Homo sapiens: one gene and its partners. The protein of the gene in region 2 purifies or fractionates together with the protein of the main gene of each other region. This does not show direct contact. Each region holds a gene or a part of one and is shown on either strand. Other genes may lie near its edges.

Evidence for each region.
Region 1: the proteins of CPNE5 (region 2) and GEMIN5 purify together in Homo sapiens (affinity purification with mass spectrometry; 2 studies listed by BioGRID and IntAct, with this or other methods). This does not show direct contact.
Region 3: the proteins of CPNE5 (region 2) and ANKRD52 purify together in Homo sapiens (affinity purification with mass spectrometry; 2 studies listed by BioGRID and IntAct, with this or other methods). This does not show direct contact.
Region 4: the proteins of CPNE5 (region 2) and USO1 purify together in Homo sapiens (affinity purification with mass spectrometry; 2 studies listed by BioGRID and IntAct, with this or other methods). This does not show direct contact.

The regions. Positions count from the first base shown.
Region 1 is NC_000005.10:154,893,196-154,900,236, reverse strand, and holds part of GEMIN5 (gem-associated protein 5), read left to right. Parts: intron 1-926; coding exon 927-1,046; intron 1,047-1,586; coding exon 1,587-1,797; intron 1,798-3,893; coding exon 3,894-4,145; intron 4,146-7,041. UniProt on the Homo sapiens protein: The SMN complex catalyzes the assembly of small nuclear ribonucleoproteins (snRNPs), the building blocks of the spliceosome, and thereby plays an important role in the splicing of cellular pre-mRNAs.
Region 2 is NC_000006.12:36,740,268-36,745,478, forward strand, and holds the end of CPNE5 (copine-5), read right to left. Parts: coding exon 5,121-5,211; intron 4,884-5,120; coding exon 4,781-4,883; intron 4,260-4,780; coding exon of another isoform or gene 4,110-4,259; exon of another isoform or gene 4,065-4,109; intron 4,059-4,064; coding exon 4,001-4,058; coding exon of another isoform or gene 3,855-4,000; intron 3,496-3,854; coding exon 3,422-3,495; coding exon of another isoform or gene 3,023-3,421; exon of another isoform or gene 2,984-3,022; intron 2,220-2,983; coding exon 2,001-2,219; 3' UTR 1,484-2,000; coding exon of another isoform or gene 1,436-1,483; 3' UTR 508-1,435; downstream 1-507. UniProt on the Homo sapiens protein: Probable calcium-dependent phospholipid-binding protein that may play a role in calcium-mediated intracellular processes. Plays a role in dendrite formation by melanocytes.
Region 3 is NC_000012.12:56,241,359-56,248,399, reverse strand, and holds part of ANKRD52 (serine/threonine-protein phosphatase 6 regulatory ankyrin repeat subunit C), read left to right. Parts: intron 1-175; coding exon 176-377; intron 378-625; coding exon 626-713; intron 714-789; coding exon 790-907; intron 908-2,803; coding exon 2,804-3,023; intron 3,024-3,209; coding exon 3,210-3,297; intron 3,298-3,410; coding exon 3,411-3,494; intron 3,495-3,602; coding exon 3,603-3,748; intron 3,749-3,964; coding exon 3,965-4,047; intron 4,048-4,266; coding exon 4,267-4,349; intron 4,350-4,523; coding exon 4,524-4,615; intron 4,616-5,007; coding exon 5,008-5,258; 3' UTR 5,259-7,041. UniProt on the Homo sapiens protein: Putative regulatory subunit of protein phosphatase 6 (PP6) that may be involved in the recognition of phosphoprotein substrates.
Region 4 is NC_000004.12:75,811,570-75,814,820, forward strand, and holds the end of USO1 (general vesicular transport factor p115), read left to right. Parts: intron 1-590; coding exon 591-806; intron 807-1,636; coding exon 1,637-1,726; 3' UTR 1,727-2,717; downstream 2,718-3,251. UniProt on the Homo sapiens protein: General vesicular transport factor required for intercisternal transport in the Golgi stack; it is required for transcytotic fusion and/or subsequent binding of the vesicles to the target membrane.

The DNA of each region.
Region 1 (7,041 bases), on a different chromosome or scaffold from region 2:
TTCAGATCTTCCAAATGTTAACATATCTTATTATAAAATACCCAAAAATACCACATTCCTTACTATCACCATCAGTCTCATCAGAAAATTCTAACTTATGGGAAACTCAGGCACACAAGTGGTAGGTACAAGTTTTCTAAAATTCTAATTTTTGCTAGAAAACTCGCATTTTATCATTAGTAACAAATACTGTTGGTTGTTTTTAATGAAGTGATAGGCCTACTTTGTTCATTTTTGAGAAAAACATCTGCCAAATACCCAACACTGAATAACTGTTATTTATGTTAGTCATTTTTTTTTTTTTTAGAAGAAAGAAGGTTCTATGAAAAAGCAGCCAGTTTAGCTTGTAATTTGTTCATACAGGTGTTACCTAGAGACAACCATTCTACTTTGGAATGCAGCAGAGAACACAAAATGTTCTTCCCATTTGTCACACAGAATATTAAAGTGTTTTGGACTTGACGGATTTAGTAAAATTTGTAATTTTTACTGCTTCATTAAGGGCATTCTTCCTTTTTTTCCACTGTAAGAGCCACCGCCTTCCTTCTTAGATGCCAGGTTTCCCAATCACTGCTTTGGCACAATCAGTGCAAATGTCAACACATTTTTTTTTTTTTAATAAAAAAGCACATAACTGACTCTTAGCATTGTTACGAAAATAGTTTTAACCTCATGAACCCTCTGAAAGGTTCTTGAGGACCCCCTAGGAATCCACAGACCACAATTTAAGAACTGCTGATCTAAGTGAAGAAACGAATGCAGCATATGTTTCTAATTTGTCTATATAATGCAAGTGCAGTTTTTAAAGGAAGTTGGAACAATAAGACAACACAAAAGGGACAGTTTGTCCTGTCTTACAGCCCCTCCTAGGACCATACACAGAGGAGCCTTTTCAGATTGGCTAAAGGGTCTGTTCTTGCCTTTAGGGAAGCTATTGCGATTGCCAAGGCCCGGCTGCGCCCGGAGGACCCAGTCCTGAAGGACTTGTACCTCAGCTGGGGAACCGTCCTAGAAAGAGATGGCCACTATGCTGTAGCTGCCAAATGGTAAGCCTGAGGAGTGGAGGGATGCTTCCAACATAGGAGAGCTTCTGCCAGGAAGGGGAGGACAAGAATACAAGTAATAAGTTTAGAGGTGGAGGTAAAGCAGCAAGGAATTATTTAAAAGATATGTATATTCAACTTAGTTTCATAAGACTCATCAGGAACTACTTCCTGATTTATTTATATAAATCACTATAACTATTCAAGAAAAACCTCAGCAGCAGATTAAGAAATTATGCATTTTTCTAATGGTCTCTTATAACATCAAATAAAGGAACCTCAACCCATGCTGGATTGAACCCAACAGAGGAGTCATTCCCTCTCATTTTCCTTATGTCCTTAACCTATATGATATTGTTTCTCATACACTCTGCTGAGTTGTGTTGGCCTCAGCCTTCACAGGAACAACCGGGGCAGTGACATACCTGGGACCACAGGAAGGCACATGCAGCAAAGTAGATAGAAAGAAATGATTCCATCCTCTAGGAATGGGAATAAAAATCTGTTTGTGACATTTTCTTCACATTTTTATTCATATTATAGCTATTTAGGGGCCACTTGTGCTTATGATGCAGCCAAAGTTTTGGCCAAAAAGGGGGATGCGGCATCACTTAGAACGGCTGCAGAGTTGGCTGCCATCGTAGGAGAGGATGAGTTGTCTGCTTCCCTGGCTCTCAGATGTGCCCAAGAGCTGCTTCTGGCCAACAACTGGGTGGGAGCCCAGGAAGCCCTGCAGCTGCATGAAAGTCTACAGGTCAGTCTGTTATTTCATCTCCTAGTATACAAGAGGGAAGTGTCCCAAATCCTTTTCTAGTCAAATCCAAGTTAATAACCCAGTTGCACAAGCTGTGCCAATTTGGCAGGCCCAGCAAGCCCTGGCCATGCTATCCCACTGAAGTACTATGACTTGTTAGTTGCCGTATTCAGAGTAAGAGATAATATGGTCATTCACAGTAATTCCCATTGCTTATCTGTTTGTACAAAACACCTGTGAGCCGGGCACAGTGGCTCATGCCTGTAATCCCAGCACTTTGGGAGGCCGAGGCAGGCAGATCACTTGAGGTCAGGAGTTTGAGACAAGCCTGGACAACATGGTGAAACCCCGTTTCAACTAAAAATACAAAAATTAGCCGAGCGTGGTGGCACGCTTCTGTAATCCTAGCTTACTTGGGAGGCTGAGGCAGGAGAATCACTTGAACCCGGAAGGCGGAGGTTGCAGCGAGCCAAGATCCAGCCTGGGCAACATAGTGGGACTCTGTCTCAAAAAAAAAAAAAAAAACACAAAAAAAAACACCTTAGTCAGCCCAGGCCTTGGGTTGGCAGTCTAGGGTTTCTTCATTGATGTTATCAGCACTGTCTTCCTTGAAGAGAGAATGGTTGGCCTCTAACAGAAATCATGGAACTCTACCTGTAAATGCCCCTCTTAACTGTAAGCTATGGAAAAAAAACTGGGCCAGATGCAGCAGATCGCTTGAGATTAGGAGTTCAAGACCAGCCTGGCCAACATGGCGAAATCTTGTCTCTACTAAAAATAAAAAAATTAGCCAGGCATGGTGGCACACATCTGTAATTTGGCTACTTGAGAGGCTAAGGCAGGAGAATTGCTTGAACCCAGGAGGCAGAGGTTGCAATGAACCAAGATTGTGTCACTGCACTGCAGCCTACGTGACAGAGTGAGACTCTTCAGAAAAAAAAGAGAAAAGTGTGGGAAAATGGAAATCTCTTTATTTCTTAAATTTTTTTGTTCCCATCTGATTAAAAATCAGTAACATACCACTGCCTTTTTGACACATCAAAACAGATTAAAGCATTGGCACACTTACCTAGTTTCTGAAACATGTAAACATTTGATTCACTTTAGATAACTTTGTGAGATACTAACAAGAGGTTTTTTAAGTTCTTCATTCTCTAACAGAGTACAGGGCCTACAGATGGTTTTTAGCTGAATATTTAGAGCCCAAGGAACGTGGTACATGGGGAGGTAGCTTTCTAGGAACAGCAGAATAAAAATGGAGGTGAAAATAGGACACCCTAAAAGATAATGCCACTGGGCATTATTTATAAAATGACCAAGTCTAGAAAGATTTTAATTTATCCACCATCAAAAAAAGTTTCCAGAATGACTGTTTAGCATTTTATTTTTCTCTTAAACAGCATCCTTAACAAAGCAAAAAAACCTAATAAGCATATGCTAAATATTCTGATAAGGGCTATTTTGGTTTTGTGCAACAGAGACTCTTGCAAGCTTAACTGAGAAGATATTGTTATAGGAGTACACAAGGAATCTCATGGCAACTAAAAATCTAGTGAAAGTAGATTTTCTAGGCCTTCTCTGTGCTTCTGTTTTCTTCTCTCCCAGCCAGCTTCCTCTATTAAACCTATTTGGACATGGCTCCTAATGCCTGTCCCAGCTCTTGGATCTGCAAAGCTTGTCTATTCCAGCACCTTTGGCCCATTATGCTTTTATTCCTGAGTCCAAAGTTTGGTCAGGGAGAAAGAACCTGATGAGCCCAGCCCTTCTTTTCCTCAAACTAGGCTACAAGGCTTAAGTGGCTGGTCTGTGTGTGGCTTAAATCATTGTGGGTAGTGCTACAGTTGGGATTCTGTGTTATAAAAATGGTTTCTTGAGCTCTAAGGATAGATTTCCCCCAAAAGGGACCTGGGAAGTGTCTGTCAGATCGCCCCTTTTGTCTCTTTTCATGCATGACTCATATGGGGCAGGTAGCTCACTAATGTGCTTTGGTTGCTGCAGATACAAAGGGAAATACTTTGAAGGACACGGGAGAGCTCTCGAGATCATCCAGTGCTTTCCCTGTATAACAGTTCCTCTTCCTTGTTGTCGTGTTCCAGGGTCAGAGATTGGTGTTTTGCCTTCTGGAGCTACTGTCCAGGCATCTGGAGGAAAAGCAGCTTTCAGAGGGCAAAAGCTCCTCCTCTTACCACACTTGGAACACGGGCACCGAAGGGCCTTTCGTGGAGAGGGTGACTGCAGTGTGGAAGAGCATCTTCAGCCTTGACACCCCTGAGCAGTATCAGGAAGCCTTTCAGAAGCTGCAGAACATCAAGTACCCATCTGCTACAAATAACACACCTGCCAAACAGGTAAGCCATCTGTACCAGCATTTGACATTAATCACTCAGTGGTAAGACTTCCTTAATCCATGTCTATTGTAACGGGGAAACAAGCAGAATACTGGACTGTGTTTCAGAAAAGGCTAAGGCATGGCCACGCCACCTGGAAAGATCCCTTTAGACTAATCAAAGCCCTTTAACTTTAAAGTTAGTATTAGATCAGTATTCCCTTTTTTGTTTTGTTTTTTTTAGTTGTTTGAAGCTGGAGTGCAGTGGCATGATCTTGGCTCACTGCAGCCGCCACCTCCCAGATTCAAGTGATTCTCCCGCCTCAGACTCCTAAGAGCTGTGATTACAGGCGTGCGCCACCACGCCCAGCCACTATTTCCTTTTCTAAAAAAGTAAAATAAAAAGTCTAGAAAATATAGAAAAGCAGAATAATGTAATAACCCATCAACCAGAATTAACAGATGTTCACATTTTGTCATTTTTACTTTGTAGGGTTTTCTGGTTTCATTTTGTATTTTGATTTGAGGACTTTATAAAATAAAAACAGTAGGGCAAAGTTGAAGTCCTTCTTGTTCCTTTCCTCAGCCCTTCACTCCTTCCCTAGCTCGCCACAGGCACCTCCTGTGTCAGTGCCACATGTATTGTTTTGCTGTTTGCTTATTTCAGAGGCCATTGTTTGTAAAATCTATCCATGTTGATAAAAAGAGATCAGTTGATTTATTTTAACTGCTATGTCTGCCTTGTGAATATACCTACTTCTTTTTTTTTTTTTTTTTCCTTTCTGGAGACTGGGTCTCACTGTTACCCAGGCTGGTCTCGAATTCCTCAAGTGATCCTCCCGCCTCAGCCTCCCAAAGTACTGGGATTACAGGCATGAGCCACTGTGCCTGGCGTAGTTCTTTCCCTCATTTCAAAATGAGGGAACATTATGATATTTATGAGGAACAAGGCTTCTCAAATGGTATATACTTTGAAAAACAATTGGACAGTTTCTTTTTTTCTTTTCTTTTTTCCTTTTCTTTTCTTTCTTTTTGAGGCGGAATTTCACTCTTGTTGCTCAGGCTGGAGTACAGTGGCATGATATCTGCTCACTGCAACCTCCGCCTCCCAGGTTCAAGCAATTCTCCTGCCTCAGCCTTCCAAGTAGCTGGGATTACAGGCATGTGCCACCACGCCCAGCTAATATTTTTACTTTTTTTTTTTTTTTAGATGGAGTCTCACTCTGTCACCCGGGCTGGAGTACAGTGGCATGATCTTGGCTCACTGCAATCTCCGCCTCCCAGGTTCAAGCAATTCTCTTGCCTCAGCCTCCCGGGTAGCTGGGATTACAGGCACCTGCCACCATGCCCGGCTAATTTTTTGTATTTTTAGTAGAGACAGGGGTTTCACCATGTTGGCCAGGCTGGTCTCGAACTCCTGACCTCGTGATTTGCCCACTTCGGCCTCCCAAAGTGCTGGGATTATAGGCATGAGCCACTGCAGCCAGCCTATTTTTCAGATTTTTAGTAGAGACAGGGTTTCACCATGTTGGCCAGGCTGGTCTTGAACTTCTGACCTCATGTGATCCACCTGCCTCGGCCTCCCAAAGTGCTGTGATTACAAGTGTGAGCCATCACGCCTGGCCAGGCAGTTTCTTATAAAGTTAAACATGCACATGCCCCATGTCTCAGCAGTTCTGCTACCTAGATATTCCACTAAAACAATGAAATCAGATGGCCACACAAAGACTTGTACACAAATGTTTACAGCAGCTTAGTGCACAGTAGCCAAAAACTAGAAACAACCCAAATGTCCATCAACTGATGAATGGATATGCAAACTGTGTTGTGTCTATGCAGTGAAATACTATACTGTTTAACAATAAAAAGGGCCAGTCTTGGTGGCTCACACCTGTAATCCCAGCACTTTGGGAGGCCAACGCGGGTGGATCGCTTGAGCTCAGGAGTTTGAGACCAGCCTGGGCAACATGGCAAAAACCTGTCTCTAGTAAAAATACAAAAATTAGCCGGGTGTGGTAGCACAAGCCTGTAATCCCAGGTACTAGGGTGGCTAAGGCAGGAGAATCATTCAAATCTGGGAGACGGAGGCTGCAGTGAGCCAAGATGGAACCACTGCACTACAGCCTGGGTAAGAGAATGAGACCCTGTCTCAAAAAAAGAAAGTAAAAAGGAACAAATTACTGCCACACAAATAATATCGGTGTTAGCCGCGCGTGGTGGCGGGCTCCTGTAGTCCCAGCCACTCTGGAGGCTGAGGCAAGAGAATGGTGTGAACCCAGGAGGCCAAGCTTACAGTGAGCCGAGATCGTGCCACTGCACTCCAGCCTGGGCGACAGAGCAAGACTCCATCTCAAAAAAACAAAGAAGAAGAAGAAGAATATCGGTGAATCTCAAAAGCTTTAAAGACACAAAAGACTATATACTCTGTGGTTCCATTTATATGAATTCTAGAAAAGAAAAAATTAAAGTGACAACCAGTTCAGTGGTTGCCAGTGGGGTGGGGCCAGGAGATCGCCTGCAGAGGAGCCGGAGGGCATATCTTCAGTTGATGAAAATGTTCTGTCTTGATTTTGCTGGTAGTGTTGTAACTATATATGTTTCTCAAACTACATACTTAAAATTGAGCACATTTTTCTTAGTTGTACTCCAAGCTTTGTTTTGTTTTGTTTTTGGTGGGTTTTGATTTTTTTTTTTTGAGACAGCGTCTCACTCTGTCACCCAGGCTCGGGTGTAGTGGCTTACTGCAACCTCCGCCTCTCGGGTTCAAGCAATTCTTCCGCCTCAGCCTCCCAAGTAGCTGGGATTACAGGCGTGCACCACCAAGCCCGGCTAATTTTTTTTTTTTTTTTTTTTTTTTTAGAGACGGGCTTTCACCTCGGGTGATCCGCCCGCCTCAGCCTCCCAAAGTGATGGGGTTA
Region 2 (5,211 bases):
CTCCAGCCACACTGGCCTCGCTCTCCTGCAAATGCACCAAGGAAGCTCCTACCACAGGGCCTTTGCGCCTGCTGGTCCCTCTACTTAGAGCTCCCTTCCCCAGATATCAGCGTGGCTCCCTGTCTTACTTCCTGGGGGCTCACCTCAACCATGACCTCCTCTGAGAGGCCCTCTCTGACCACCTCATCGAAAACATCACCCTCCTTCTCCCTCATGTGTCTTTAGAACTCTTGCTACCACCTGAAATGATGTTACTAGCCTATTTGTTGATGTGTTTGCTGGGTCTCTCCCATATTATCTGTGTGTGTGTTGTAAGCCCTGTGCAGGGACAGGGTCTGTGCTTTGTTCATGGCTGCATCCTCAATGCCTAGCACAGAGCGTGGCACGTGGCCTTTGATTGTAAATCTCACTGAAGCAAACAATTGAAGGAAGCCACAGAGGAGAACTGGACCCTGTCAAGCAGCAACGTCAGTGCTATTTTTCAGAGAAGAAAGAAAAACTTCGTGCTTTACTAAAAGAACCAAATTTACTTCAGTTTAAGGCAAATTCCACACAGAGACTGTCTCAGAGACGGGCACAGAACCAGACACCGTAGAAACACCACCACCATGCATGACGGGGAAGCAGAGGCAGGCGGAAGACGGGGGCCTGGCCTGCACCAGGCACGGAGAGGTCAGTGGGCTGAGGAGCTCCATGCGGCAACAGGGATTGGCATGCATGATCTGCTCCCCGAGTGGGCAAAGGCTGGGCAGCTGGGTGGGCCCGGGAGGGAGATCCCCTTCTTCCCCACCTTTCCCACAGCAGGGGCAGGAGCTCGGGCTCAGATGCCAGAGCCCCAGGCTGAAGGACTAGGGTATGTTTGGGGTGATGGGATGAGACAGGGTGACCCAAAAGCCAAGGCGGCCTCAAGTAGGGTCACATCTGTTAGGAGTAGGATGGGGGGAACTGGGCATGGGATGAATGACCCTCAGGATGTCAGACCTAAAGGAAAACCTGGGGCCATCTGGTCAACCCTCTTGTGGTACAGACATGGAAACTGAGGCCCAAAAGGTAGAAGGGCCTTGCTTGGGTTCCCACATTAGGCAGTGGGGGGAGGCAGGGCTCAAACCCAGGACTCCTGTCTCCTAGCCTCATGGGATACAGGGCAAAGAGCAGGAGCAGTGTGGGAACGTGGGGCTGAGCCACTCCTTACTCAGGCCTCCAGATGGGCAGAGGCGTGGGCACCGAGGGCCCTGGGAAGCCTCTGGAGGGAGGAAGGGATTCCTGAAGCCAGGAGTCAACCATGGAAGTACCTGTGGGCCCACACCAGGGAGAGGCCTCCACAGGCCATCTGTGTGTCTAGAACTTGCATCGTACTGAGTTCGAGAGGCACCAGAAAGGGCTCTGTGCTGAGCAGCCTCCACTTCAGGCCCATCACATGGCCTACGGTCCATGATTACAGCACCCCATGGGGTCCCCGGGGCTCCCAGCGCATCCAGTGTCCCTGGGAGGGTGCACATGTTCAGGCCTTCCTGCAAACCCATCAGCTTCATGGGGTTCACTGGAAATCGGGCACAGGATAGACCACAGGGCGGGGCTCAGGGACAGGAGTAGACACCATGGGAGGATGGGACGGAGATGGGGGGCTGGAGGAGGCCAAGCCCAGGCTTCAGGGTGACAGGTAAGCAAATAGGATTGCCGGGGGTGGGCGACAGGGACCCCAATCACCCTTATTGTTTACACCTTCCTGGCTGGGTTAGAGCCAGGTATTGGGGAAGAAGAGAAGGGCTGGGTCCCTGTGTACCCCTCTTTCACCCGTACCCCCCTAACTCCCTGGGTTTGGGCAATAAGTGAGGCCAAGAAATTGAGGAGGGGTCTTCAGAAGCCCCACCCCCTGGCAGCCTCCCAGGCACACAGATGTCCCAAAGGCCGGGCAGGCCAACTTCGGGGAGTCTGGGGCCCTGGCCTCCCATTCACCTGGCCTCTCCCAGGCCCCAGCCACCTGCCTGCTGAGACCAGGTTCAGATGTGCGTGTGCAGGGGGGACGCAGGGGGCGTGCGGGCTGGGGACTGCGAGGGCGAGTGGGTTGGTGCTGCGGGTGGGGGACGCGGGCGAATGCCCTGTGCCTTCATGTAGGACACCAGTTGGTCAGGGATCTCTGCCAGCACGTCTCGGGCCAGGCGGGCCATGCTCAGCACGTGGTTGCCTGTGCGGTCCACGTAGTCCCGGAAGGGTACAAACTGGCAAGTGGGAGGGCAGGGTCAGGCAGTGCCTCCTGTGGGACCCTGGCCCCCAAAATCTCCAGGCCTGGGGTTGCATCCCCACCCCCCTCCCAGCCTCTGCTCACTTGACTCAATCCCCCCACCTTTCTGAATTACCTGAGGGACTGTATCCCTCAACTCCCTGGGTTTGGGCAGTCAGTAACTATAGTCATAGTCACTATTCTTTCATTCACTCGACAAAAACTGAGCCCTATTCCACACCAGGACACACCACTGAACACGATTTCTCCACCTCGGCACTAAGCACAGGCTCTGAGTAGGTGCTTCCGAAATGCCAACTGAATCCCTGACTTCTGGGGCACGTGCCCTCCTGGGTTTCCCCCGACCTGTCCAGCAGAGCCCTCTCTCTCTGGCCTCTCTTCGTTCCTTTTCTCTCTGGGGCTAATCTGGCCAATGCCTAATGCCAGGCCCATCTGGCTTCTTCCCGGGGGTGCCCTCCATCCTGAGCGCCTCTTCTGGCTCACTCCTGCCTCCAGGCCTTAGCATGGGCCGGTCCCACCTCCCAGGTTGTCTTGCTCTGGTTTCCAGCCCCCTATGTTTGGTCTCCACACCTGGGATACTGGGCCCCAATTTTTAAACCAAGGGGGTATGCAGGATGTCAGCTTTGTCTTCTGCATCTCCTAAGCACTAGGGCCTCCTCTGCAGGGGATGAGTGGGGGAAGTGCTTGCGGAGGGTGCATTCTTCCACGTGAGACTGCATGGGAATTCCCTGAGGACAAAGGTCTTTCTGCTCATTATATTTGCACCGTTCATGGAGATGCTTACATTGATTCAGTTAACCGAGCAATGCCTATTCTTGGAGAAGGCTGCAGCAACACTAAAGACACTGCCTCAGCCTTCAAGGGGCAGAAAAAAACCAGAACGAGGCTGACCACAGAGGCCTGGAGGCTGAGGAAGGGCTGGCAGAGGGTTCTGGCCTCTGGCTGGGCACCCGCAATGTTAGGAGTGTGTCCCAGATGTGACAGAGGGGGGCCCAGCCCAGACCACAGCATGGCCGAGGACTGACTCCTACTCCCTTCGGTGGTGGCTGGGCCACTTTGGGGCTCCCAGTGCCTCCCTTCTGGGCCCTTCACCAGGGAAGCCCCCAAAGGGGGTGTGAGGTCCGCCTGGCTAGAGGGGCTCTTGAATTTCCCATGGGGCAGGCAAGGCCTGGGCTTCACCTGGACGATGTCGCGTTCAGCCAGCTTCCCCCGGGAGGAGATCCGCACGTCGTCGCCATCCAGCTCCACCATGGCTGTGAGGGGAGGAGTGTCATGGGGCGGGGTGAGATTAACGGTGGACCCCTGGCCCTAGCAGGAGAGTGGACTTGTCCTTTCATCCCAGGCCAATCCAGGGCCGAGACCACTGGCCCATGCCCCGTGTTAGAGATGAGGAAACTGAGGCCAGGGGCCAGGAGGAGCCCGATCAGGTGAGCCTCTGACTTTGAGCCCAGTGCTTTGGTTCACCACCCTCCCCAGACTCCCAGGGCTGGAGGAGAAAGAAGTGACTTGGGGCCTCCTCCCCACAGCCTTGGGATGTGGGTGTGGGTGCACACCCAGACCTGACACACCCTTCCCTGAGCAAACAAATGCGTCCCACACCCTGCACACTCACCCAGACACACACGCCCAGGCGGGAGCTCTCACTCTTTTGGGAGGGGTCATTCCCAGGGGACCACAGCCTCTGGGGAAACATCTGGGGTGGGGGCAGGGTTGCGTGGCTAGGGAAGGAAAGGAGGGGAAGGCAGCAGCTGGACTCACCGTCGAACTCTGCCTGGCCCACGCCGACGATAATGATGGACATGGGGAGCTTGGCAGCCTGGGAGACAGCATGGGGGGCAGGGAAAGGTTGGACCCAATTGGGACCCAGTTAAAAGGAAGGAGAAATCAGGGGTAGGACAGGAAGGGGTGGGCAGGAAAGAAATGGGAGAGTGAACATGGAGAGACAGAGAAACACAGAAAAGGGGGTAGGGAGAGGGAGGGCACTCAGAGATAAAGAGCAAAGGAAACCAGGCTGCGCCTGGAGGAGAGAGGGAGGGTGGCAGGGGGAATGGGTCATAGGTCTGCTTTGGTGAGTCACCCCCATCCCCTCTTACAGGGAGACCACCGGCTTGGGGAGCCATGTTCCTGAGCTTCCCCAACTCTGAGCCTCCCCTCCCACTCCTTTGACCTGGCCAGGCTGGCCTGGGAAAGGGGGAAGCGGTCCTAGAGATGGGTTAATGAGGGAGTCATTGGGGTCTGGAGGGAGTAGACCAGAGCGTGACTAAGAGGTGGGAACAGAGCTCACCAGCCAGATCTCTCATGATCTGGGCACCCCTTCCACCCGCTAGAATCCACTATCCAGCACCGGACTCTGCAGCCAGAGGCCAGAAGGTGGATGAGGGCAGTGGGGCCCAGTGAGGCAGGGAAATGAGAAGCCACGCCCAAGTCATCTCCAAGCATTTCCCTAAGGTCAAGGAGGTAGGCACATCCCCAGGGTTCCCCTAACGGGGAGGAAGACACTCCTCAAACCGCCTCCCCCACCGCACACTCCTTGCTTACGTTGACAATGGCCTCCTTGGTCTGCGCCATGTCCGAGATGACCCCATCAGTAATGATGAGCAGCACCGAGTACTGGGAGCCATCCTGCACGGCCGCTGCATTCCTGGGTGGGGCAGGTGTGGGCTCAGGTCTGTCTGCGGGACCTCTGGGCATGTTCCCCCCTAAACAAGGACCCTGAACACTTTGGAGGGTGACAGCTCTTGGGGGAATCTCTTCAGGGTCAGGGCTCCCTGAAAGGCAAGTGCGTGGGAAGAGAAACCCCCTCCCACCACCCAGAGGCAGAGCTGGTGTGGAAACAGAGGCCTTGTGAGTGCCTGGAGGCGGTGGCAGCGGCACTCACCTGGCCACGTGGGTGACCACGGGGGCAAAGTTGGTGGGGCCGTACAGCTGCACAGTGCGCAGGCTGCGGTGGTAGGCCTCCAGGATGCCGT
Region 3 (7,041 bases), on a different chromosome or scaffold from region 2:
GCCTTTTTGTGGGAGAGGGGATAAGCACAGTGCAGGGTAGGAAGCCTTAAGGGGCCCAAGGAGCTTGTCAAGGACTAAGACCTTGAGCTTCCCAGGGACCCCAAGAGCAGAGAAGGGGAAGGGAGGAGCAGGGAAGGTCCCGAGCTGTGTGCACTGGTTGCCTGCACCTTGCCAGGCCTACAACGGTCACTGTGAAGCCTTGAAGACGCTGGCGGAGACGCTGGTGAATCTGGACGTAAGGGACCACAAGGGCCGGACCGCACTCTTCCTGGCCACGGAGCGCGGCTCTACTGAGTGTGTGGAGGTGCTTACAGCCCACGGCGCCTCTGCCCTCATCAAGGAGCGCAAGCGCAAGTGGACACCCCTGCACGCTGCTGGTTAGTGCCCACTTTAGGCTGCTGCCCTACCCTTGCCATGCCAGATCCCTCCTGGATGGGAATGGGGCTGGAAAGTGGAGTAGGGTGAGGAGAATGGAGACTTCAAGCCCTGATTCATAGCTTCCTATCCTCAGAGATTTCTCCCTGGCCCAGGTCTTTCTGTAACATTGACCCCAAGTCCTTTAGGCTTGACCTTGCCTCCCTTCTTCCTCCTGGCCCTGCCCTGACACGGGGTCCCTTTCCCCTAGCTGCCTCTGGCCACACTGACTCCCTGCACTTGCTGATCGACAGTGGGGAACGAGCTGACATCACAGATGTCATGGATGCCTATGGACAGTGAGTGTGGGCCAGGGTGGGGTGCAGGTTTTCCAGTCCTTGCGGGATCCTCACTCCTCCTCCTGCCCTTCTGTAGGACCCCACTGATGCTGGCCATCATGAATGGCCATGTGGACTGTGTACATCTGCTGCTAGAGAAAGGATCCACAGCTGATGCTGCTGACCTCCGGGGCCGCACTGCCCTCCACCGCGGGGTGAGTGAGCTTCTAGGGGGGATTGTTTGCACATGGGCCTCAGTGTGGGAGCATGGGACTCACCAGCAGTAGGGAATCCAATTGTCTAGGAGGCAAGCCAGGATTTTGTGCCGTCTTTTTTCTTTTTCTTTTTTTTTTTTTTTTTTGAGACAGGGTCTCACTCCCATTGCCCAGGTTGGAGTGCAGTGACACTATCACAGCTCACTGCAGCCTTGACTTCCTGGGCTCAGGTGATTCTCGCACCTCAGCCTCCTAAGTAGCTGAAACTGTAGGCACATGCCATCATGCCCAGCTAATTTTTGTATTTTTTGTAGATATGGGGGTCTTACCATCTTGCCCAAGCTGGTCTTGAACTCCTGGGTTCAAGTGATCCCCCCACCTTGGCCTCCCGAAGTGCTGGGATTACAGGCATGAGCCACCAGACCCACGCTGTGCCCAGGATTTTATTGAGCTTTGTGCTTGCTCCAGGATGAGTTCCTGACGTCCCCAGCTGATTTCCCTGATATCTGTGCTTTGTTTATTATTATTATTATTATTATTATTATTATTATTATTATTATTATTATTATTATTGAGATAGAGTCTCGCTCTGTCACCCAGGCTGGAGTGCAGTGGCGTGATCTCGGCTCACTGCAACCTCCGCCTCCTGGGTTCAAGCAATTCTCCTGCCTCAGCCTCCCGAGTAGCTGGGATTACAGGCGCCTGCCACCACGCCTGGCTAATTTTTGTATTTTTAGTAGAGACAGGGTTTCACCGTGTTAGCCAGGGTAGTCTCAATCTCCTGATGATGAGATCCACCCGCCTTGGCCTCCCAAAGGGTTGGGATTACAGGCGTGAGCCACTGTGCCTGGCCAATATCTGTGCTTTGTAATCACGTACAACTGAGTGCTCACCACCCAGACTCTACCTGGGATACCCTGCTGGCCCCAACCCATCGCATAATGTCGCCACAACCTAGATCCTCTTCCGTGACCACCTGTCCTAAGCTGCCTCCTCCTCCCATAAGATTTTTTGATCCCTTAGTCTCCTTCTCTCCATTTAGTCTTTCCAGTATTAACTCCAGAGCTCCAGTATTAACTCTTAGTATCCTGATTGTCTGCTGGCATAGAGAGAGTCAAGGAGGGAGATGTGGGTCCCTAATACTTAGAATTGTTGTTGTAAAGGGCCGGGCATGGTGGCTCACGTCTGTAATCCCAGCACTTTGGAAGGCCAAGGCGGGCAGATCACCTGAAGTCAGGAGTTTGAGACCAGCCTGGCCAACATGGTGAAACTTCGCCTCTACTAAAAATACAAAAATTAATTGGGCATGGTGGTGCATGCCTATAATCCCAGCTACTTGGGAGGCTGAGACAGGAGAATTGCTGGAACCTGGGAGGCAGAGGTTGCAGTGAGCCAAGATCGCACCATTGCACTCCAGCCTGGGTGACAGAGTGAGACTCCGTCTCAAAAAAAGAAAGAATTATTGTTGTAAAGACAAGGATTGAGGCCAGTGGCTCATGCCTGTAATCCCAGCACTTTGGGAGGCCGAGGCAGGCGGATCACGAGGTGAGGAGATCAAGACCATCCTGGCTAACGTGGTGAAACCCTGTCTCTACTAAAAATACAAAAAAATTGGCCGGGCATGGTGGCACCTGCCTGTAATCCCAGCTACTTGGGAGGCTGAGGCAGGAGAATCGCTTGAACCGGGGAGGCAGAGGTTGCAGTGAGCCGAGATTATGCCACTGCACTCCAGCCTGGGCGACAGAGCAAGACTCCGACTCCAAAAAAAAAAAAAAAAAAAAAAAGACAAGGATTGGAGCCCTGGAAGTGGTTCTTACTCCTGAGCCAGACTCCAGCAACAGGCCAGTGGAAAAGGAGGAGCTTTTCATCCCCCTCACACCCCCATGTTACTCACAGGCAGTGACTGGCTGTGAGGACTGCCTGGCTGCCCTGCTGGACCACGACGCATTTGTGCTGTGCCGAGACTTTAAGGGCCGCACGCCCATTCACCTGGCCTCAGCCTGTGGCCACACTGCAGTACTGCGGACCCTGCTGCAGGCTGCCCTTTCCACAGATCCCCTGGATGCCGGGGTGGATTACAGCGGATACTCGCCCATGCACTGGGCCTCCTACACTGGTACTAGACTGGGGCCTCCACAGGCACAGGAGCATGTGTTGGAGTGTGTGTAGAGGGGGACAGGTGGGTTGTTGGGGGGGACCTGGGTTGATCTGAATCTGGAAGTGGAATGGAGTGTCAAGACACAGGACAGACAGGGAACCTTGCCGTTTTTCTCCATCACTACTCTTCCTTCCTCGTGCCCAGGACATGAAGATTGTCTGGAGTTGTTACTTGAACACAGCCCGTTTTCGTACCTGGAAGGAAACCCCTTCACTCCTTTGCACTGTGCAGTGTAAGTCCCTTCTGCTGCATCAGCCCTTCTCGCGAGGGCCCATGACTTGAGCTTAGGACAGGTAGTCTACTTCCCTTGTCCTTCCTGATGACCCCTCCTCCCTCTTCCTCTAGGATTAATAACCAAGACAGCACCACAGAGATGCTACTGGGAGCTCTGGGTGCCAAGATTGTGAACAGCCGAGATGCCAAAGGACGGTGAGTGATGGAAGACTTGGGAAGAATCCCAGTTGCCTCTGGCTTCCCCTTTCTGCTTGGGCAGTATACTCTTCCCTATTTTAATCTACCCTGATCCCTGCCTTACAGGACCCCCCTTCACGCCGCTGCCTTCGCGGACAATGTCTCTGGGCTCCGGATGCTGCTGCAGCATCAAGCTGAGGTGAACGCCACTGACCACACTGGCCGCACTGCGCTCATGACGGCGGCTGAGAACGGGCAGACCGCTGCTGTGGGTGTGTAGGGGCCACTTGTGGAAGGGAGGAGCTCCCCTGGGGCATTTGCAGGATGGGTCAGCCCTGCCTGTGGAGGCTGGCTGGGGCTGGGGTTCAGAAAGCAAGAGGGTTGTCTTTGGATGTCTCGCCATCTGCAGACGGGATGCAAAGTGGAGAGCCAGGATGGCTACTGCTCTGGAGGGAGGGGTCAGTCCCTCTATCACATTTCTCTCGTAGAATTTCTGCTGTATCGAGGGAAGGCAGACCTTACTGTGTTGGATGAGAACAAGAACACGGCCCTCCACTTGGCTTGTAGCAAGGTACTTACCTGAAGTGATTGGGGGACTGCATAAGGGGCAGAGCTTGATGAAGAGAGGTAAGTCTCGGTTGCAGAGGGGACTGGGGCAGAAGTGAGGATTGTCCAGCCTATCCGACTGGTTGGGCAGCTGTTTGTCCTCCTGTTACTCTCCCCAACTCCTGCCCTGCACCCTGCCACATTTCTACTTCACAAGTCTCCACTCTCTGTTCCCCTCCCTCAGGGCCATGAGAAATGTGCCCTCATGATCCTGGCAGAAACCCAAGACCTTGGCCTTATCAATGCTACCAACAGTGCGCTGCAGATGTGAGTGCCTGGGGAAGGGGGCTCCTGGCTGGGGGAGGCCAGTGGGTGATGAAAGAGTGGCCGCTGTTCAGAGGCTCTCTGGAGCCCATTGTATTTGTTCAGCACCCTTGCCACCCTGTCTGGAGGTGGAAGGGCAGCTTAGCATCAAGCTCCTTCTTTTTCCTTTTTTCCAAGGCCACTCCACATTGCTGCCCGGAATGGTCTAGCTTCTGTGGTACAGGCCCTGCTGAGTCATGGGGCCACAGTGCTGGCTGTGGATGAAGAAGGTGGGTGGGGTCTGGGGCCCCATGCCTCTCTTGGGTTTGGGGTCAGGGACATTCTTCAGGAGGTGACTTCTTAATCTTGCTATACATGGGATTTTCTTCCCAAGGGAACTCTTCAGAGCAGGGAGCCCACACCAGTACTCTGGAGTCTCAGAGGGGAGCCTGCAGGGTCAGGAGGACTCCACACCCTAGGCTTTGACTCCCATGCCCGCCCTTTAACCCGTACTTAGAGAATCTGCCTGTCAGCCTTCCTGGGCCCTCGTCACCCTTGGATTCTGCCGCTGCTGGGTACCTGCCTGCCTTGGCTCCCTCCACAGAGAAGAGACTTCAGGGCTTGGGGGAGGCTGGCTAGGATACAGGACTCTATGCCTCAGTTCTCCCCCTTGGCCCTGCAGGTCACACCCCAGCACTGGCCTGTGCCCCCAACAAAGATGTGGCAGACTGCCTGGCCTTGATCCTTTCCACCATGAAGCCTTTCCCACCCAAGGACGCCGTCAGTCCTTTCAGCTTCAGCCTGCTCAAGAACTGCAGCATTGCAGCCGCCAAGACGGTGGGTGGCTGCGGCGCCCTGCCCCATGGGGCCTCCTGCCCCTACAGCCAGGAGCGGCCCGGCGCCATTGGGTTAGATGGCTGCTACTCTGAGTAGCCCCCTCCAGTGTCCCTCCCCCGCCGGTGGCTTGATATCTAATTCTATTTATTTAGAAAAAGTCTAAACATTTAGGGCACTTTAAAGGAGAACACGACTGGGTGGAGGGGGCGGAGGGGAAGGAAGCCCTGGGGAGCAGCTGCTCACCCCTTTGCCACACCATCTTGGCCTGGCAGGGGTCTGGGACTGACAGGGAGCACCCCAGGCCCTTGGTACCCCCAGGGCGACCCCTTCTGCCAAGTGTCCCAAAATGATTGCTAAATGCCTGGCTCCCCCACTCTTTGACTCCATCTCTTGGTTCCCTCTTTCTGCTGCCAGCTCCCCCGACTCTTCCCTGGGGACTCCTCTCTGTGTCCCCCTTCTCCCCTGCCCCTACTGCCAGGCAGATCCCCTCTTCTTCCATACCCATCACTGCCTCCCTGCTCGGCCGGTCCCTCCATCCCCGCAGCAGTGAGAAGCCTTAATTTCTGGTACTGTGTGAGCACTCTGGGGGTGTCCCCCTCCCCCCTTCAGGGGCAGCTAGAGGATGAGGGGGGAGGATATTTAGCACTGGGGCCTGGAGCTTTTTCCCCACTTCTGTACCCTATCACCCCTAAAGTTCAAATGCAAAACACTTGAAGCAGCAACTACTGTACCTGGGCCCCAATCCTGCACTCTCCCCTGGCTCCTCATATGCAAATCAAGGGCTGGTTCTGCCCCCACAGCCTGCCCCCTCCCCATTCCCTCCCACTCCTAGCCTGGCCCCTAACCACGCACTTTAACCTTGCTTCTTTCTTTTATCTTCTTTTGGGAGGGCAGAGCCTGTGGTCATTCCTGCCCTGGCTCTCCTTCCCTTGAACTTTGAGGCTTGTCATGAATTTTTAAGTAAGCGTTTTATCCTTTAGGGGAAGAAACAAATTAATTTCCTGCCCATTTCAAAACCACAGCCCTAGTATGTCCACTGTGTTTCAGGCATGTGTTTGCATGTATATGGAGGGAGGGACCATGTTCTTCCTCCTGTGCCGCCAAGCCCATAGTTTATCTGTGCTCCCTATCTGCCTCCACCTTCCGTTATGTCCAAGAGTACCCACTGCCCCAGTCACTCCTGATCTGAAGCCAAAGATGGTAGGAGGGGCAGGGCCGACAAGGGACCGTGGCTACTCGGGACCCAGGCTTCCCCTCCAGTGTGAGGAAGAAGCTCTGACCTAGAGAGAGATGAATAGGTACTGGGGCTTGGTCCCTGCCTTCCCAGCAGGGAGGAAAGATGGGATTGAGCTGGGGGCTGCACTGATAAGATTTCTAAAGTCGCACCCCAAAAGCCAAACTGGGCTGGAGTGAAGAGGGGGCAGTTTTCTCTCTAAATGTAGCATTGAATTTGGCCCTGGTCCCTTTAAGTGCTCTGTCCACCCATCTCCTAGTGCAGCCTCCTGGACAGTTGGACCCACTCCTGCAGCCCAGTGTTCCCTTCCTCACACTCAATACCTCAGCCAGGGGCCAAGACACAGAACTTGAATAGAGGTCATGCCCCCTCCGCCCCCACACTGCATCCTTGCCCAGTTTGGCTGCCATCAGTATTGTCCCCTGAGAACTGGACAGGCTTCGTTTACACAGTACAGGGTCTCCCCTGAGGGGGGATCCTTCAGCCTCCCTCCCCTACTCAAGTTTGCTTTATTCACAGTCTTACCCATCTTTTAGTTGTATACCCTGAATGTCTTGCCACCCTTGTCAAGGGTGGGCTGAGGGGAGGGGGGCGTCCCAGGGACCCCCTCCCTCCCCAACGGATACCTTTAACCATACCTCATGC
Region 4 (3,251 bases), on a different chromosome or scaffold from region 2:
ATTAAATCCTGTCAGCATATTATTGTGTGACAGAGACATCAGAATAAATAGCATGAAGAAAGGAATGAGGTCACATTAAGGAAAATAAGGAAAATAATGTATAATTGTGCTTTTTGGATTGTGGCCAAATTATTTTATTTTTAAACCATAGATTTTTATTTGAAGCTATTTTCATTTAATTGTATGCTTGAAGTTGGGATAAAAAATTTTTTTTTAACTTGAGCTTTGAGTTCTAAAATTCTGGTACTAATCAGACTTCTTCTGTAAAATGCTTTGTGTTTCTGTTTACTCCTTTGATTATCTGAAATGGTACTGTTTTTTTTAAGTCTCTTAAAGGTTTTTTCAGGGATAGCTAACTAAAACTATTTTTTGGATGTTAAACTATTTTTTGGCAATAACCATTTTTGATGAACAGTCTAATAAATTCATGTTAGTGTGTGTGTTAAACCTCCTGTACCCTTAACCTCCACCCCTAAATTCCTTAGGTTGAACAAGTACAGTGATTTGTCATAGAAAGAAACTATTTGTTAAAAACTCTAGGAAAGTGAGTGCTAATTTTAGATTCCTGCCTTTCACCTTTCTTTTCCTAGAATGAAATTAAAGCTCTGTCTGAGGAAAGAACTGCCATTAAAGAGCAGCTGGATTCATCTAATAGTACCATTGCCATTTTACAAACTGAGAAAGACAAACTAGAGTTGGAAATTACAGATTCTAAAAAAGAACAAGATGATCTCTTGGTGCTCTTGGCCGATCAAGATCAGAAAATACTGTCATTGAAGAATAAACTCAAGGATCTTGGTCATCCAGTAAGATTAAAATGTCTCCAAAAATGATTTGTATTATGTTTTAGTATAATGCATTTAAAAGATTTTTAATGTAACATGGAAAAGTTGTGCCTGTATTATAGGAATGGATATGTGGGTTCATGAATATGGTACCATCTATACTGTTTTCACTGTTTTCATTGAATTTACTTAATACACAGATTAGGTTCAGTTTTCAGTACTTACAGACTATTTTCTTTTGGACCGTAAGCCTAGAAAGTGAATTGATTTGATTGGTAACAAGACTGTAGTCACCCAAGCATGTCATTATCTTTTGCCATGTTTGTTTCAGATTTGTGTGTAAAGAGGTGTAGCCATTTATCAGCAAAGTTAACTGATATATCTCATTCATATTAGAAATGACAGAGAGCCTTGGCATCAAATCAAAGAAATCAGATGGCTTATATTCTACTGTAGTTACTAGAATACAAAATTTGTCTGGGCACAGTGCTCACACCTGTAATCCTAGCACTTTGGGGGGCTGAGGTGGGCAGATTACCTGAGGTCAGGGGTTCGAGACCAGCCTGGCCAACATGGTGAAACCCCATCTCTACTAAAAATACAAAAATTAGCAGGGCGCTTGGTGGCAGGCACCTGTAATCCCAGCTACTCGGGAGGCTGAGACAGGATAATCGCTTGAACCTGGCAGGCAGAGGTTGCAGTGAGCCGAGATCGCACCATTGCACTCCAGCCTGGGTAACGAGCAAAACTCCATCTCAGAAAAAAAAAAAATTATCAGTAGTATATATTGTTAAATGTTGAATGTGACATGAACAGATTTTCACAATATTAAATACGTCTTTTTCCTCTAGGTTGAAGAAGAGGATGAACTTGAATCTGGAGACCAAGAGGATGAGGATGATGAAAGTGAAGATCCTGGCAAGGATCTAGATCATATCTAGTTTTCAAATCTCTAGGAACAATAGAGATTATATCATAACTCTGAAGATGGACTCTAAACTTTGGTTTACCTCCATGGAAAATAAAGATTTAGAAACCAGGTGGAAAACATTCACTATTAAGACTATTGATATATTTTTGTAATGTTGCCACCCATGTTGAAAACCTTAAAACTGAATTTATGTAGAACACACATCTTTTATTTAAATCCATCTGAACTGTCCCAAAATGTAATTTGCAAAGAGCTTCAAACACCAAAAATATACCATTTTAAGGCATGTGGTGACAATGCTATTTGCCTTAGTTCATTCGTTGTTTACTTTGCAAAATTTGTGACTTTTAAGTACTAACACATTTGATTGAATGTGTATTGAATTGGAATTATTATTTCTAAATTCAGCATTTGAGTCCTTAGTTGATGATTTTCTTTTAAAGAAATTAGTTTATTTAAAAGCAAGATAGCCTGGGTTGGGAGTTAGTGCATATCATCAGCCCTCCATCTAATGTGATTGCTAAGATGTGCAGGATAGGACAGCTTAGAATGAGTGCCTTGACACCTACATATGGCTGCATTCCATACCTCAGTGAAGAAGCCGAAGGATGCTGACACACAGTGATGTGGAGGGCATTCCGGAGAAACTTTTGCAACAGTGTATTAATGTGATTGGTTTTCTTTTTGTTTTAAGCTAAACATCTAAAACAAATTTCAAGTTAACAGTTCATACAACTCAGATTTAGTAGTATTGTTTATCATAAAACATATTATGTTCCTAGTTTTAAAAAGACCCAAAGTATGATTAATATAATTTATTGGCATTTTTGCTGAATAGGTTTAAGTCAGATAATAGATTTTAAAAAAGCAAATGAGGCAATGTGTCAAAATTTAATGTTTCATAATAAAAATAGATACGTTGACTTAATCCTTGGTCATGGTTCCCTTTGTTTACATCTTAAAAGTATTTTATTCTTAATAAAAGATGAGGCAAGTGAAAATGATGAGGCGACTTTTCTTATTAGGGGTACACAACTATAACTGAATGTTAAAAACAATCTTCTTTAAAACCAATGATTATGATTCCCTAAGATTGGAGGGGGTTAGAAGTACAGAAGTAGAAGAGGTTGGAAAAGGGTTTGGACGTTTTTAAATTCAGCACTGGAGTTCTTGGCAATGATTTCCTGTTGAAGAAGTGGGTTTACTTAAAGACAAGATAGCCTGGGCTAGAAAATAACGTATTTATCTGCCTTCTGGGGTCAGGAATAGGACACAACTTTTGAAAGAGAAGGAAGGTCACTGTCTTGATGAAGGAGACAGCTGTGTGTTACAGAGCACTCGTGAATGCTGCACTGTGCCCATGTTCCACCACTACTGCCATCCTAAGGTGGCACTTGCCATCAGAGAAAGAACTATATTACTGTCACCAGACCAGCTCAGATAGGTGAGGTCTTCCTAAAGTTGACAACCACATAATGAACCATGAGTTAATGACTACCTTTCAGGCTAACGTACGGTTAAAGAAAAATGGATCA